Linked DNA regions of Homo sapiens: region 1 is linked to region 2. The links come from fine-mapping of genetic effects on gene expression. A gene starts in region 2. The other region holds a variant in brackets. All regions are shown on one strand. Distances are between the middles of the regions. Region 1 overlaps LOC105379412 (a long non-coding RNA gene). Region 2 holds the start of ELF2 (E74 like ETS transcription factor 2).

Region 1 (8,334 bases), 31 kb after region 2:
TTCAATATTTACAAAAGTAATGTAAATCACTTAAAATTTTTTTCCTGTACTTCTGTTTTAAGGCTATAAAACAACTGCTATTCCTCAGACACCAGCCTCTCAGATTTTTACCCTTAGTGCTTTTGAATATTGTCTTTGCAATTACTAAAGACAGTGTGCAAATGACTTCCCTGATCCCCAGATACATATATCAAAAGTAGTTTAATGATTTTGTTGAAAATGAAAATAAAATTACTTTCACATTGAAACTTTCCTTTCTTATTCTTATATCCAAAGGTGGGTGGCTGGGGAAGGAATCTGTAAACATTTGGAGTGAAAAGGATATTCAGTAATTTTAGTAACTGTTAATAAATTATTTTAAAAGTTAACATAGAATTGGGCTTATTTAAATTAGATGGCTGTGCATTTTAGACACATTATTAAATTTGCCGCTTAACTGATTGGTTGCGTATTTTTCCATGACCAAAAAATACGTTCTGGATGTATGATGTCCACTAGCAACTTAGCCATATGTGGCTTTTGAGCACTTTTAATGTAGCTTGTCCAAATTGAGATGTGCTATAAGAGTAAAATACTCCTTATTTCAAAGACTTAGTACTAAAAAAAGAAGGTAAAATAGGTTATTAATAACTGTTCATTGATGACTTGATATCAGGTAATATTTTGAATTACTGAGTAAAGTAAAATATACTTGAAAAATTAATTTCATCTCTTTCTTTTTACTTTTTAAAAAATGTAGGCAGGGTGCGGTGGTTCATGCCTGTAATCCCAGCACTTTGGGAGGCCAAAGCAGGCTGATCACGAGGTCAGGAGTTCGAGACCAGCCTAGCCAACATAGTGAAATCCCATCTCTACTAAAAATACAAAAAATTAACTGGGCGTGGTGGCAGGCACCTGTAATCCCAGCTACTTGGGAGGCTGAGGCAGGAGAATCGCTTGAACCTGGGAAGTGGAGGTTGCAGTGAGCCGAGATTGTGCTGTTGCACTCCAGCCTCGGTGACAGTGTGAGACTCCATCTCAAAAAATAAATAAATAAATAAATAATTAAAAATGTGACTACTAAAACATTAAAAATTACCCACAGAGTTGGCACTCCATTTCTGCTGGACAGTGCTGCTCTGAACAGGCTTTCTTACAGCAGGAAGAGCTTAGCCCTTGTTCAAATGTCCTGCAGTGGGGAAGAGTGTGGGCAGTTCTCTTGGAGAAGGAAAATCTCAGATGTAAAAATCAAGAAATTATTCTTACAGTGGGATATTGAAATATTTGTTTTGAACTGTATGACCCTAAAATTTGCTCTATCATGTTATGAAGTTTTACTTTATTGATTTAACCAGGAAAAACTAAATTCCTGACCCTCCTCCCAATAATTTACCTACAATATTTGAAAAGTAATTTTCCAATGTAGAAAAAAAGCATAAACTATGATATTTTTCCTTCTAGAATAGAATTTTATAAAATTTATTGAAAGACTTTCATGTTAAAAAAATTAAAATGGAAGGAAATGTCAGTAAGACAAAAACTATTTGCTTCTTCATAGTCCAGCCTTTTTGTCCATTTCTTTAGAAAATGAAACACAGAGCTGGGCACAGTGGCTCATGCCTGTAATCCCAGCACTTTGGGGAGGCCAAGGCAGGTGGATCACTTGAGGTCAGGAGTTCCAGAGCAGCCTGGCCAACACGGTGAAACCCCGTCTCTACTAAAAAATACAAAAATTAGCCGGAGGTGGTGATGCATGCCTGTAATCCCAGCTACTCAGGAGGCTGAGGCAGGAGAATCGCTTGAACCCGGGAGGTGGAGGTTGTACTGAGCAGAGATCACACCACTGCACTCCAGCCTAGGTGACAGAGCAAGACTCCATCTCAAAAAAAAAAAAAAAAGAATAAAAGAAAAGAAACACAGAAAGGACCTTTTCAGTTACTTCTTTCCTTTGTTTACACTTGGCACTTATATTTAGTATGCAGTCTACCTCTTTCAGTCCTCTCAAGTCCACCCCTCCTTTGCAACATCATTCACAAATTCTACCTTATGCACCAAATCCCAGTTGCTTTCCAGCATGGAAAGAGAAATCACACAAATATTCACTTCCTTCCTGACTTACAGTTTTCCTTTTCAAATTGCAATTGGGTTTCATTATAAATTCTCATCCACCAATTGTCCCTCTATCCTTCTGCTTCAGTTTTCTCCCTCTCCCTCCCCTTCATGCCATCTTCTCTCTCCCTCTCCCCTCCCTCTGGTGAGCATGGTGTTTGAAGCTCTCTGACTTGGTGCCCCTCTTCTGTTTAAATCTTTCAGTACACACCTAGGCAAGTTATTCTCAAGCAGCCTGAAATAGCTTTAAACTGTTGGGAACAAACCTAGTAGAATTCAAAAGGACTTCATTTGTATTACCCTGACAACAGCATGTCTGAAAATTAGATTTGTCTCAGCCAGGCGTGGTGGCTCACGCCTGTAATCCTAGCACTTTGGGAGGCCGAGGTGGGCGGATTGCCTGAGCTCAGGAGTTCGAGACCAGCCTGGGCAACATGGTGAAACCCTGTCTCTACTAAAATACAAAAAATTAGCTGGGCATGGCAGCGTGTGCCTGTAGTCCCAGCTACATGGGAGGCTGAGGCAGGAGAATTGCTTGAACCCAGGAGGCGGAGGTTGGAGTGCGCCAAGATCGCGCCACTGCACTCCAGCCTGAGTGACAGAATGAGACTCCGTTTCAAAAAAAAAAAAAAGAAAAAGATTTGTCTCATTTTCCAATATCTTTTAAATTCCTAATATTTCTGATTTAGTGACTGTCAACAGTCTTTTATAGGTCAACAAAACCAAGTTTGCTTGCTTTCTCCTGAAACAGGGTATACTACCTATCTTGTTACACCAATGTTGAAATTTTTTAAAGTTGTTCTGACAAGAGAATGCTTGTTTAAATTTGTACCATGTCTTTTTGATGACACTCCCATTGCCTCCTCTCTTTATTTGCTGCAGTGGTGGAGGGGAACAGAGGAAAACATATTTCCTTCTAACCGGACTATAACTGGGTGGGAAGGGGTAAAAATGCTAGTTCAGAAGCATGTGGGGCAGAGACACTCATAAAATAGAGAACGGAAGTGCTGTCAAGGACACACTGTGAATGGCCACTCAGAGTTCCTTCCTCAGCATGCCTTTGACTTCACTTCTGTCCTCCATGACCCAAACTCAAATGGACAAAGCAGACTCCCAGAACTGACAATCCGCACTGTGAGAAGTGAAGGTAAATTAGTCATCACTTTACAGGTTTCAGTTTGTAAAGTGTCCTTGACACTTGACCAAATTTAACTATGTTGTCAACAGTGGAACCAAGGTGTCTTGGTTATGTCTTATACCCAAAAAGTGGTAATTCCTATAGATAATGTCAACCTAAATATATAAACAGAGAGAGGCTCTCTAAAAGAAAATATTTATTCAGGAATAGGACATTGCAGTGGGAATATGCATGCCATAGTAAACAATATGCATATTCATGGAAAGTAAAGTGTATTAGGGTTCTCCAGACGGGCAGAACCAATAGGATATATGTATGTAAAAACAGGAGTTTATTAGGGAGAATTGGCTCACACAATTAAAAGGCAAAGTCCCACAATAGGCCACAATAGGCCCTCTGTAAGCTGGGGAAAGAGAAAAGCTGGTAATGTGGCTCAGTCCAAGTCTGAAAGCCTCAAAACTAGGGAAGCCAAGAGTGCAGCTCTCAGGCTGAGGCCAAAGGCCCAAGAGCCCCTGAACGCCACTGGTGCAAGTCCCAGAGTCTAAAGGCGAAGATCCTGGAGTCTGATGTCCAAAGGCAGGAGGAAAGGAAGCAAGTATCTGGCATGCGAAAGGAGAATGAGAGAGAGAGAGAGAGAGAGAGAGCTCAGCAAGCTGAACATCCCTTCTCCCGCCTGCTTTGCTCTAGCCGCGCTGGCAGCAGATTGGATGGTGCCCACCCACATTGAGGGTGGGTGGGTGGGTGTGCATCACCCTCTCACAGTCCACTGACTCACATGTCAATCTCCTCTGAAAACACCCTTCAGAAATAATGCTTCACCAGCCATCTAGGCATCTCTCAATCCAGTCAAGTTGACACCTAATATTAACCATCACATAAAGAAAGACAAAGGTTTTTAAAGAAAACATGAGAAGGATTACATAATTGTTTTGAGATAATTATCCTTGGCTACAAAGAT[C/G]AATAACAAGGGTGACGTCAATCCAAGGTTGGACAGGCAGTTGCTGAGCAGATGTCCTCACAGAACATCTGCATGATGGCCTTTGTGCAAGATTGTGGTTTTTGCAGAGTCTTTTGTAATAGTTTCTGTCATCCAGCATTTATTCATGAGAAAACACTTCCTTCACGGCCTTCCCTAGCGCTATTTGTCAGGGTTTGGTTTTTTGGGTTTTTTTTTTGTTTTTTTTTTTTTTTTTGGTTGTTGTTGTTTTCTTTCTTTCTTTTAACAAAAGTGACTCCATTTTGATTCTGACAGTTTTCACAATAGGATTCTCATGGTTAAGAGATAAGTTTGCTTTCTTTTTTTTTTTTTTTAACAGAGTCTCACTTTGTCACACAGTAGCATGATCAGGGCTCACTGCAGCTTTGCTTCCACCTTCTGGGCTCAAGCAATCCTCCATCCTCAACCTCCCAAGTAGCTGGGACTACAGGGGTGCACCATCATACTTGGTTTTTTTTTTTTTTTTTTTTTTTTTTGGTAGAGACAAGGTCCCACTATGTTGCCCAGGCTTGTCTTGAACTACTGTCCTCAAGCAATCTTCCTGCTTCATCCTCCAAAAGTGTCGGGAGCTCTACCACTGTGAAAGTAGTTAAGTATAGTACATAATGGTTAACATCATTTTAGCAATCTTAAAGTGTATATTTTGGTAAAAGCCACAATTTCATAAGAAAGCAGTCAGGCATAGTGGCTCACACCTGTAAATCCAGCACTTTGGGAGGCTGAGGCAGGAAGATCACTTGAGCCCAGTAGTTCAAGACCAGCCTGGGCAACACAGTGAGACTCTCTCTCTACAAAAAAATTTTTAAAAAATTAGCCAGGCACAGTGGCTCAAGCTTGTGGTCCCAGCTACCTGGGAGGCTGAGGTGGAAGGATTATTTGAGCCCAAGAGATCAAGGTTGCAGTGAGCCATGATCCCATCATTGCCCTCCAGCCTGGGGAACAGAGCAAGACCCAGTCTCAAAAAATAAAATAAAATAAATATAAATGTAAATAATTTAAATGTTTTAAATTGTGGTAAAAAAAAAAGATAATATAAAATTTACCATCCTAACCACTTTAAGTGTTAATCAGTTCAGTAGGGCTAAGTAGGTTCACACTGTTGTACAACAGATATTCAGAACTTATTTAACTTACGAAACTGAAACTCTATACCCATTAAACAGTAACTCCCCATTCCCTCCTCCCCCCAGCCTCTGGCAGCCACCCTCTACTTTCTGCGTCTATGAATTTTACTACTCTATATACCTCATATAAGTGGAATCATACACCAATTGTCTTTTTGTAACTGGCTTATTTTTCCTAGCATAGTGTCCTCAAGACTTATCCATGTTGTAACATGTGACATAATTTTCTCCCTTTTGAAGGCTGAATAATATTCCATTGTATATATATATACCACATTTTATTTATCCATTCATCCATTAATGCACATTGGGGTTGCTTTCACCTGGTCTATGTAAGATTTGTTTTTTGTTGTTTTGGATTTTTGTTGTTGGTTTTTGAGACAGTGTCTTGCTCTGTCACCCAGGCTCAAGTGCGGTGGCATGATCATGGCTCACTGCAGCCTCAACCTCCCAGGCTCAAATGATCCCTCTACCTCAGCCCCCCAAGTAGCTGGGACTATAGGCGTGCGCCACCACACCTGGCTAGTTTTTGTATTTTTTGCAAAGATGGAGTTTCACATGTTGCCCAGACTTGTCTCGAACTCATGAGCTCAAGCAATCTGCCCACCTCTGGCTTTCCAAAGTGCTGGGATTACAGGCGTGAGGTACCACGCCTGCCTGGCTGTAAAATTTTTTGTTATAGCAATATTATTAGTGTGTTCTGAATTAGCTAGCTTGTTTAAGATTGAAGGAACACACACATGGGTTATCATCAATGACAGAGTGTATTGCAAGGATATATAAGGATTTGGGGTTTCAAGAAAGGCAGGTAGCTCTGGAAATTGCCTCATCCAGCTGCATTATATTTCATGAGATTGTGCAAAAGGTACTACAGGAACCAGGATCTTTATTCATAACAGCAATCTTATCTAAAACTATTCATCTTCTTCTTGGTATATCTAGTATTTATATTTCCCAAAAGAGATGTTTTATTTGAGTGGACTTGTCATCATTTATTGCAGAGTATCATCCTTGGACAAGAGTGCCTGCCAGAGTGCTGCAAAGCCAGCTGGCCCTCATCATGCTTTATGCTACTGCCTTCAGCCTGTGCTTCAGTCCTTAATCCCATTTGCTGTGACTAGGAGAGTGGGGATGGTTTTTCTTTTTTTCTTTTCTTTCTTTTTTTTTTTTTTTTTGAGACATGAGTTTCACTCTGTTGCCCAGGCTGGAGTGCAATGGCATGATCTCACTCACTGCAACCTCCACCTCCCGGGTTCAAGCAATTCTCCTGCCTCAGCCTCCCAAGTAGCTGGGATTATAGGCATGTGCCACCATGCCCAGCTAATTTTTTTTTTTTTTTAATTAGAGACGGGGTTTCACCATGTTGAACAGGCTGGTCTCAAACTCCTGACCTCAAGTGATCTACCCATCTCAGCCTCCCAAAGTGTTGGGATTACAGGTGTGAGCCATCACGCCCAACCCAGGGCATGGCTTTTCTTATAGTGCATACCATAAGCCAAAGTAGCTCAGATAGGAAGCAATCATTTAGTTTCTACTTTAGGATGGAGCTCTAAATTTGTATGCCTATACCTTATAGAATATATATATACATACATACACACACACGCACACACACATAAATTTGAGTCTTGTGTTTTCCCCATTCTTCCCCTTAGCACCTAACATTTATTGATTTATTCATTTATTCACCCATTTTATTTGTACTGACATTGAACAAAAATATGTCAAGTCCTCTGGTGTTCAGTGCACTTCATTAACCTCCTCCCACCCATGCTCTCAGAGACCCTGGGAGGCAGGTAGTATTCATGTTGTGAACCTAGTCAGGATGGTTTTCCACATCAAAAATCAGAGGTTTGGCTGGGCGCAGTGGCTCACGCCTGTAATCCCAGCACTTTGAGAGGCCAAGGTGGGCAGATCACCTGAAGTCAGGAGTTCCAGACCAACCTGGCCAACATGGCAAAACCCTGTCTCTACCAAAAACACAAAAATTAGCCGGGCGTGGTGGCACATGCCTGTAATCCCAACTACTTAGGAGGCTGAGGCAGGAGAATCACTTGAACCTGGAGGTCGGAGGTTGCAGTGAACCGGAGATTGCGCCATTGCACTCCAGCCTGGGTGGCATAAGACTCCATCTCAAAAAAAAAAAAAAAAAAATTCAGAGGTTCTATGCTTCAATCCTTCAGAGTGCTGATTTCTTAATTAACTAATTAACACATTAATTAATGTGATAAAATGCGAATGTGTTAACTGGTATATTATTAATACGGTATGTTTTCCAGGTAAATTGTTTGCTCTTAAAATAAGGCCCTTCTGGACCCGGTGCGGTGGCTTACACCTGTAATCCCAGCACTTTGGGAGGCCAAGGCGGGTGGATCACCTGAGGTCAGGAGTTTCAGACCAGCCTGGCCAACATGGCGAAACTCGGTCTCTACTAAAAATAAAAAACAATTAGCCAGGTGTGGTAGCAGGCACCTGTAATCCCAGCTACTTGGGAGGCTGAGGCAGGAGAATCGCTTGAACCCGGGAGGTGGAGGTTGCAGTGAGCCAAGATCACACCATTGCACTCCAGCCTGGGTGACAAATCGAGACTCTTTCTCAAAAAAAAAAAAAAAAAAAAAAAGACCCTTCTGAAGACAATGCTTTCACCCAAAAGACTGGCTACATAATTTATGGCACCTAAGGCAAAATGAAATGCAGGGCCCCTTGTGTACTAACTCAAAAATTATTAAGAATTTTAAGATGCTGGCCGAGCACGGTGGCTCACGCCTGTAATCCCAGCACTTTGAGAGGCCGAGGCGGGCGGATCATAAGGTCAGGAGATCGAGACCATCCTGGCTAACACAGTGAAACTCCATGTCTACTAAAAATACAAAAAAAAAAAAAAAATTAGCCGGGTGTGGTGGCGGGTACCTGTAGTCCCAGCTACTCAGGAGGCAGAGGCAGGAGAATCGCTTAAACCCGGGAGGCAGAGGTTGCAGTGAGCCGAG
Region 2 (8,334 bases):
AAACTGATAAACGCTACAATATGAATGAATCCCAAAAACATTATGCTAAGTGAAAGAAGCCAGATACAAAAGACTACATATTGTACAATTCCACTTATACAAAATATCCAGTAAAAGCAAATGGATTAAGACAAAACCAATCAGTGATTGCCTGAGGCTGGGGGTGGGAATAAGGGTTAACTGCAAACAGGCTGGAGGGAATTTTGGAGGCAATGGAAATGTTCGAAAACTAGCTCAAGGTGATAGATAGTTTCACGATCTATATATTTACTAAAAATTATTGAATTATATACTCAAAATGGATAATTTTTTTGGTATCAGGTAAGTCAAAAGCTAATTTATTAAAAAGTGTACATACCCAAAGAAATGACAACACATCTACACAAAAACATGAATATTCATAGCAGCATAATAGCCCAAAAAAATAGAAACTTAAATGTCCATCAACTGATGCACAGATAAATAAAATGTAATATGTCCATAAATAGAATATTACTCATCAATAAAAAAAATGATTACAGGGTGGGTGCAGTGGCTCACACCTGTAATCCCAGCACTTTGGGAGGCCGAGGCAGGCGGATCATGAGGTCAGGAGATCAAGACCATCCTGGCTAACACAGTGAAATCCCATCTCTACTAAAAATACAAAAAATTAGCCGGGCGTGGTGGCACGCGCCCGTAGTCCCAGCTACTTGGGAGGCTGAGGCAAGAGAATCGCTTGAACCCGAGAGGCGGAGGTTGCAATGAGCTGAGATCGTGCCACTGCACTCCAGCCTGGGCAACACAGCGAGACTCCGTCTCAAAAAAAAAAAAAAAAAAAGACTATAAAAAATTTTTTTAATTAAAAAGGATCAGGTGCAGTGGCTCAAGCCTGAAATCCCAGCACTTTGAGAGGCCAAAGAGAGAGGATTGCTCAAGCCCAGGAGTTCAAGACTACCCTGGGTAATATGGTGAAACCCCATCTCTATAAAAAAGAAAATAGATTAGCCGGACGCGGTGGCTCACCCCTGTAATCCCAGCACTTTGGGAGGCCAAGGCGGGCGGATCACGAGGTCAGGAGATCGAGACCATCCTGGCTAACACGGTGAAACCCCATCTCTACTAAAAATACAAAAAAAAAAAAAAAATTAGCCAGGTGTTGTGGCATGCGCCTGTGGCAGGAGAATCGCTTGAACCGGGTGGCAGAGGTTGCAGTGAGCCAGATCACACCACTGCACTCCAGCCTAGGCGACAGAGCGAGACTCCATCTTAAAAAAAAAAAAAAAAGAAAGAAAGAAAATAGATTTTAAAAAAAAAAGAAATGAAGTACTGACACATATTACAACATGGATATACTTTGAAAGCATTATGCTAAACGAAAGAAGCCAGTCACAAAAGACCGCATTTATGGTTTCATTTACATAAAATGTCCACAACAGTCTAATCTATAATGATAGAAAGTCGATCAGTGGTTGCATAGGACTGGGAGTGCTGAGGGAAAATGAAAAGCGACTGTTAATGGATATGGGGCTCTTTTGGGGGATGATTAAAATGCTGTAAAATTGAGTATAGTGATGGCTGCACAACTCTGAATATACAGTCGGCCCTCCATATCCATGAGTTCTGAATACATGGATTCAATCAATGAGGTACAGAAACTACTCAAAAAAAAATTATGTCTGTAAATGAACATGTACAGACTTTTTTCTGGTCATTATTCCCTAAACAATACACAGTATAACAACTATTTACATAGCATCCACATTGTATTAGGTAGTATGAGTGATGTGGAGATGATTTAAAGCATACAAGAGAATATGCAGAGTTTATATGCAAATACTATGTCAGTTTTATTCATTTTTCCTAGGAGACAGGATTTTGCTCTGTCACCCAGGTTGGTGTCCAAACTCTGGCCTCAAGAGATCCTCCCACCTCAGCCTCCTGAATAACTGGGATTACAGGCACAAGCCACTGCACCCAGCAACTATGCCATTTTATTTTAGGGACCTGAGCATCCATAGATTCTGGTGTCTGAGGAAGGCCCTAGAACAAATCCCCAACAGATACCGATGGACAATTGTAGTAAAAACCACTGAATTGTTCACCTGCAAAATGGAGTAATTTTTTAAAAAATTAATAAACCCACCAAACTGTACACTTTAAACTGAACTGACTAGTATGTGAATTATATCATCGTGAAGCTGTTACTCCTCCAAAAATGGTATACAACATGAGCAGGTAAAGCCACTAACATTAGCAGACCCTACAGGCCACAGGTACCAATCTGTTTACTTAGGACAGAAAAATCCCAAAGTTACAAATTCTTTCCAACCATACTCAAGCTGACTATTTTGTAAATGAGTATTTATGTCTGAAATGAAAGGCAATGATAAATCCAATGAGTTAAATCACTAAACTTAAAAATAGGTTGACATAAATATTCAAACTTCAAATGCCCAGGATATTCCAATTTTCTATTTCATGTGTTTAACTACTAGATATCGTCTCAATAATATTTACATGAATGTACTCTGTAAACTGTAATGCTCTATAAAAAGTTTTATTATTCCTAAATTCCCTTAAATGTAATTTAATGGTTTCCAGTCCTATATAAGTCATTCTACCTTTTGAAGAAACTCTGAAACACAAATATCCAATCCTTTCTTAGTAAAGCATACATCCTTCCGTGATTCTGGCACCAAAGAAAGTGCATAATTTACTTCAGGATAGAGAATCACAGATAAAAAGGAAAACAAATCTGATTATCAAACACACGATTACTATTCTCTCATCACCGGATTACAATTTAAACCATTAAGCTGAAGTAAATGTTCATGAACACAAGAAAGGGGGGAATTTTTAACAGTTTTACAATGACGTGTCCCCCTCTTCCTCATTTAATGAAGTACTAAACTTAAAGGCTATTCTGCAGCGAATCTGCCTCCTAGAAAGAGTCCATCCAGGATGCTGGCAGAGGGAAAAAGATTAGAAACTGTGCGATCTGGATTATTCTTGGTGTCACGGAATATTTTTTGAGTCCTTTATGGACATGGAATAAAAATGCCCAAATGGAGCAGAAGAGAGGGCTCGGCTACCCTGATCACAAAGCTCCTGGGGTAGAGTCAGCATCCAGCCCTGGCAGAGCCCTCCCTGTCCTCCTTCCGCGCCCCTAGACCATCCCGTCGCGCGGTCCCTGAGGACCAGCTTCGCGAGGATCCAGAAGGCGGTCACTGGACGTGCCTGTTACGAGCCCGTTTTTGTTTTGCTTAAGAAACAGATTCCGATCCGAGCAAAGCCTCCCTACCTCCCGGGGAATAGGGGGAGATGGCAGCACGGTGCCGGCGTGGAGAGCGAGAATAAAAGAACTGCCGAGTACAACCTGTCGTGCAAGCTAGCAGCGCCGGGAAGGAAAGGTAAGCGGCGGCGATAAGGCACGACAGGGAAGGAAACTGGTGTCCAGCGCCCCCCCCCGCCTGCCCGCCACCCAGAGCGGCCGGAGCCTCCCAGGTCCCGCCCCGAGCTCGCCGCCCAGCCCCGGCGCCGGCCGCAGACTCCCGCCCTACACAAACCCTCCCAGGACGCGCTTCCTCCGGAGCCGGACCCCCGCCCTGGCCTCCCCGCGGGATGAGGCGGGTCAGTTCAGTCCGCTTCTCGGCAGAGGTGACTCGCGCAGAGATGTAAACACGGAGAGACCAGCTGCGCTCGGCCCATCCCCCCCGCCGGGGTCTGTAACCTCTTCCCTCAGCCCTGCCCCGCGCCCCGCGCTCCCCGCGGGCAGGCGCGCAGCGCGCCTTCCCCTTTCTCCAAGTCCCGCTCCGCGACCGTTGCCTGGGGACACTCAGCCCCCTTCCCCCAGCCCCCGGCCGGTGTCACCGCCGCAGCCGCCGGAAAACCCCTCCGCAAACCCCGAAGCAAACAACACAAGCGCGGGGCGGGGGCGCGGAGGGAGGCGGCGGCAGTCGGGACAGCCAGGCTTTATCGCCGCGCCCTTCGCGCTCCCTCTCACCAGCCTCGGCTGCCCGCGCTCTTACCTGCTCTCCGCGACGCCTGGGAAGACCGCGGCGTCCTTTTCCCTCTCAGCAGGGCCGCGGACTAGCCGCCGCCGTTGGCCGAGCGTCCGGAGGGAGCCGGGGCCTCCCCAGCAGCCCGAGCCGCTCCACAGGGAGAGAAGGAGACAAAACAGAGGCTCGCCGCCCCGCGCAGCGACCCCCGCCCGCGCCGCCCCACCGACCCCCAACCGCCTAGGCGACGGCGGCGACACAGAGCTTGGCGCTGGGAGCAATGGTTGCCCCCGCCCCGCTCCGCTCCCGGCCCCCTCCCTCCACCCCCCGCCTCGGCTCCTCCCCCTCGGCCTCCTGCCGCCTCCACCAGGACACTGGAGTCCGCCTCCCCCTCCCCGCCAGCTCAGAGTGCTCCTCCCCTCCCCACGCGGCGGGGGGGCGGGGGCGGCACCGCCAGTCACCGCAGCGCCTGTCAAACGCGGGCCGGCTATTTATACCCCGCGGGGCCCCGCCGCCCTCGGGCCCCCACCAGCCCGCCGAACCTGCTTCTTTTGCTGTCTTGAATCCCGCCCTCTTCTCCTCGCCCAACTTCTCCCAAACCCGCCTTCCCAGGTAAAGACGCTCGTCACTTGTCCGGCTCCTTGCCCAGGGCTCCCCGATCTCGCTCTCCACTCCAGCCCCGGATTGGTGCAGGGGGCTCTGCCGCACGGGGCAGGCGTGTGAGGCCGATGGGGCCGCGCGTGCACCTGCAGCGCCCGCCGGCTTTCCCCCGCCGGCCGGGACCGCACGCACACACCCTCGCCACTCAGGGCCCCCGCAGGCCCCGCCGTCACCGCATCCCCAACTCAGGACTCTCGCCCTTCTCCGGAGACGGCCCCACAGTCGGGCAGTCTGACAGTTACAGGGGGGCGAGGTTTTGCAAAAACTCCTAGCCCGGTCTTTCCAGTTCCCACTCCTCAGCCTTGGCTTAGTGAAAGGTGGGGGTTCGGGCAGGAGCGCGACGCCGGCCCCGCCCCGGCCGGTGACGCACGTGGCGCACCGCCCCGCCAGCCTCGCGCCCCTCGGCGCCGCCAGCTCCTCCTCCCCGCTAGCAAAAGCCGGGCGTAGTACACCCGCGACCCCGCCCCATTCCCAGAAATTACCACCCGCCCAACAGCCCGGCCGCGCGGCGGTTGGTGCCGGCGTTTGCTGGCTGTCGGGTGGCTGGGCCCAGCGCGCAGCTGCGGAGCGCGGCGGGCGGCCCCTTGGAGCTGCCCGGGGAGCTGCGGGCACTCGCACCTAGCCATTGTCGCTCCTTGCGCGGTCCGCAACGGAGAAGTAACTCAAGTCTGAGTGTTGTTGGTGCGAGAATGAGAGAGTGTTCTGGTGTGGGAGTATTTTGGCCCAAGTGCCTGCGAATTCGAAAACGAAAACCCAGCAGTGGCTGCACGCTTCTGGTTTCCACACTTTCACACAAAGGGGAGCCTTCGAGCGGGGCACTCTCACGCGCCTTCAAGTGCACAAAAGCCAATGACACGGTGCCGTGGGTTGCCCTGTGTAGGAGCGTCTCTTTAATGGGCTTTGTAGGCACAGTTAATGCATACAAACGCCTCAGTCTATTTCTTCACCACCACCATTCCCCGCCGCGGCGTTTTCTGTATTTGTTTCTTTAACAAAGAGCACAGCCTGTCCGGTGCGCGCGGGGCTCCTTTTGCTCCCCTCCAGGGCTCCTGCAGCCTCGCCGCGATGGACCTGGCACCTGGCGCGGTATTCACCAGCTGATTTCTGGGCTCCAGCGTTACCCTTTTTACGGCTTCACAACCAGTCTGGAGCAAAGAAGAAACACTGAGGAATATAAGTGATAGCTGTTCTCTTGAAAGGGACGTGGGAACCGTGGAAATCACCCTAGAGTAAGGCTCAAATGTCAGAAAGCTGCAGGAGGCTCCAGATTTAAATCCCTGAAGAGCCTAAGAATGTAATGATCTCTTTCTTTTGTTAATACTGCTGTTGCCTCTATTTTCTTGGGGGTGAGTCTTCTCTTCCTTTCTTAAAAAGCAACTCTGGGCCGGGCGCAGTGGCTCACGCCTGTAATCCCAGCACTTTGGGAGGCCCTGGAGGGTGGATTGCCTGAGGTCAGGAGTTCGAGACCAGCCTGCCTAACATGGTGAAACCCCGTCTCCACTAAAAATACAAAAATTAGCTGGGCGTGGTGGCACACGCCTGTAGTCCCAGCTCCTCGGGAGGCAGGAGAATCGCTTGAACCCCGGAGGTAGAGGTTGCAGTGAGCCGAGATCGCAACACTACACTCCAGCCTGGGCGACAGAGCAAGACTCCTTCTCAAAAAAAAAAAAAAAAAAAAAAAAAGGCCGGGCGCGGTGGCTCACTCCTGTAATCCCAGCACTCTAGAAGGCCGAGGCGGGCGGATCACCTGAGGTCAGAAGTTCAAGACCATCCTGGCTAACACGGTGAAACCCCGTCTCTACTAAAAATACAAAAAATTAGCCGGGTGTGGTGGTGTGTGCCTGTAATTCCAGCTACTCGGGAGGCTGAGGCAGGAGAATCGCTTGAACCCGAGAGGCGGAGGTTGCAGTGAGCCCAGATCGCACCATTGCACTCTAGCCTGGGCAACGAGAGCGAAACTCCGTCTCAAAAAAAAGCAAGTCCGAGGGCTCTTATTCTTATTTAAGAAATTTTTACTCTTGAACACAGAGGAAACCTGGAGACCGTGACTGTTAATCAAAGATCCTCTTAACTCTTGACAAAGTTTTCTGGATTCCTGAGTTCTAAATCATGGGACTGTTGACACCCTTTTGAACTAAAGAATTTGTAACAATTTGGTAACATTCAAATCTTTAATACACAATAAACAGGATTCTGCAAACAGAGCACCCTTTCTAAGGGAGTCTTTTTATCTCACTTCTTGTAAATAACTTATCACTTATGGGAACCATTGCCCAATTTGATATTTGTAAGGAATTAATTAATAATCAATAATATTGCATCTTCATAACATAACATAGCATACTAAGGAGCCGGCAAAGACAAAGACTGATTCCTGTTGTTAGGGACAGATATCACCTGCCAAGTCACATAATTTCTGTTGTCAGCCACGTTGAGAAGAAATTCTCTCCCACTGCCGATTGGCAGTAAGCTGGAAAGTCCCAGGTGGATAACAGTGGTAGATAACATTATTGTTCCCAATTTTTCACTACTCCATGCATGCATGCCATTTGAAATACGGCTTTGTAGTTCCTCTCAGTAGAGATAGGATGTTTCTCCATCCTGTTCATGTTGAGCTTAGATCAGTCCATTTGCTTTTGGTCAAAGGAAGATAGGCAGAAGTGAGTGTGACAGTTCTGAGCCTGGCCTCAAGAGGTATTTCATGTTTCTCCTTCCCTCTCTGGCACTCTTGTTTTTCACAATGTGAAGAACATACCTGGCTAGTTTGCTGGTCAAAGAAATATGAAGCAGGTCTGAAGCCAGTCCCAGCTTGGGGTCAGCAACCTAGAGAATAAAGGATTGTTGTTTCAAGCCGTGTTTTGGAGTAATAGCGTTTTGGAGTAATAGTGTTTTGGAGTAGTTGGTTCCTGGAATTAGTGTTGTGATAGCTGACTGAAACAACAGCAGAAAGAGCAATCTGCTTCCTTCATATTGGCCTGCAAGGTGCCTAACTTGGTGTGTCTCAGGCAGCTCTTTGGCTATGGTTCTTAAACACATCCCTTATGGAGGCCAGCGGAGTAAGGAACCCAGAAATTTTACAGCAAGCTTGTCCAACCCAGGGCCTGCAGGCTGCATGCGGCCCTGGACCGCTTTGAATGCAGCCCAACACAAATTTGTAAACTTTCTTAAAATACTTTTTTGCGATTTTTTTTTTAAGCTCATCAGCTATCATTAGTGTTAGTGTATTTAATGTGTGGCCCAAGATAATAATTCTTCCAGTGTGGCCCTGGAAAGCCAAAAGATTGGACACCCCTGGTTTACAGTAAAGCATTCTAGAGAACAGGGGTCAGAAGGAAAAGTCTAGTGTGACCAGTAGTCCTAGTAGCAAGCTAATGATCATGGAATAGGAAATCTCTGTTGTAACTGGATTGCTTTTGCTGTTTTTTATGTTATATAGTTTTTTATGTTATATAGTTTATTTTTTAATTATTTTTATATTTTATTTAATTATTTTTATTATAGTTTATTTTTTAATTATACAATGATTCATTAATACATTCTCATCATCAATTTTCAAATAATTCAAAATAAACTTTTTAAAACCCAAGTTCACCTTCCCTCTCCATTTCCCTTCCCACTTCTCACTTACCCTTCACACTTACGCAGCCATCCCCTACCTCTACTTTTCCACAGATAACCATAAATGAAAATTTAG

Evidence for each region. PIP is the estimated chance that this variant, and not a neighbour inherited with it, causes the effect.
Region 1: its variant is the best candidate, but not a certain one, in a credible set for the expression of ELF2 in whole blood (TOPMed, PIP 0.62).

The regions. Positions count from the first base shown.
Region 1 is chr4:139,204,285-139,212,618 of GRCh38, forward strand. All of the region lies in intron 1 of LOC105379412 (a long non-coding RNA gene), which reads left to right. Among named protein-coding and RNA genes, the nearest start is that of ELF2, 31 kb to the left of the region's middle. The variant C/G (reference allele first, on the strand shown) is at 4,185.
Region 2 is chr4:139,172,957-139,181,290 of GRCh38, forward strand. It overlaps ELF2 (E74 like ETS transcription factor 2), which reads right to left and starts at 4,262. Exons shown (of 10, transcript NM_001331036.3): 1 at 4,011-4,262. It overlaps LOC105379412 (a long non-coding RNA gene), which reads left to right and starts at 3,199. Exons shown (of 4, transcript XR_007058273.1): 1 at 3,199-3,392. RefSeq lists an enhancer at 3,233-3,282, silencers at 3,883-4,842, 4,853-5,232 and a cis regulatory region at 5,599-5,723.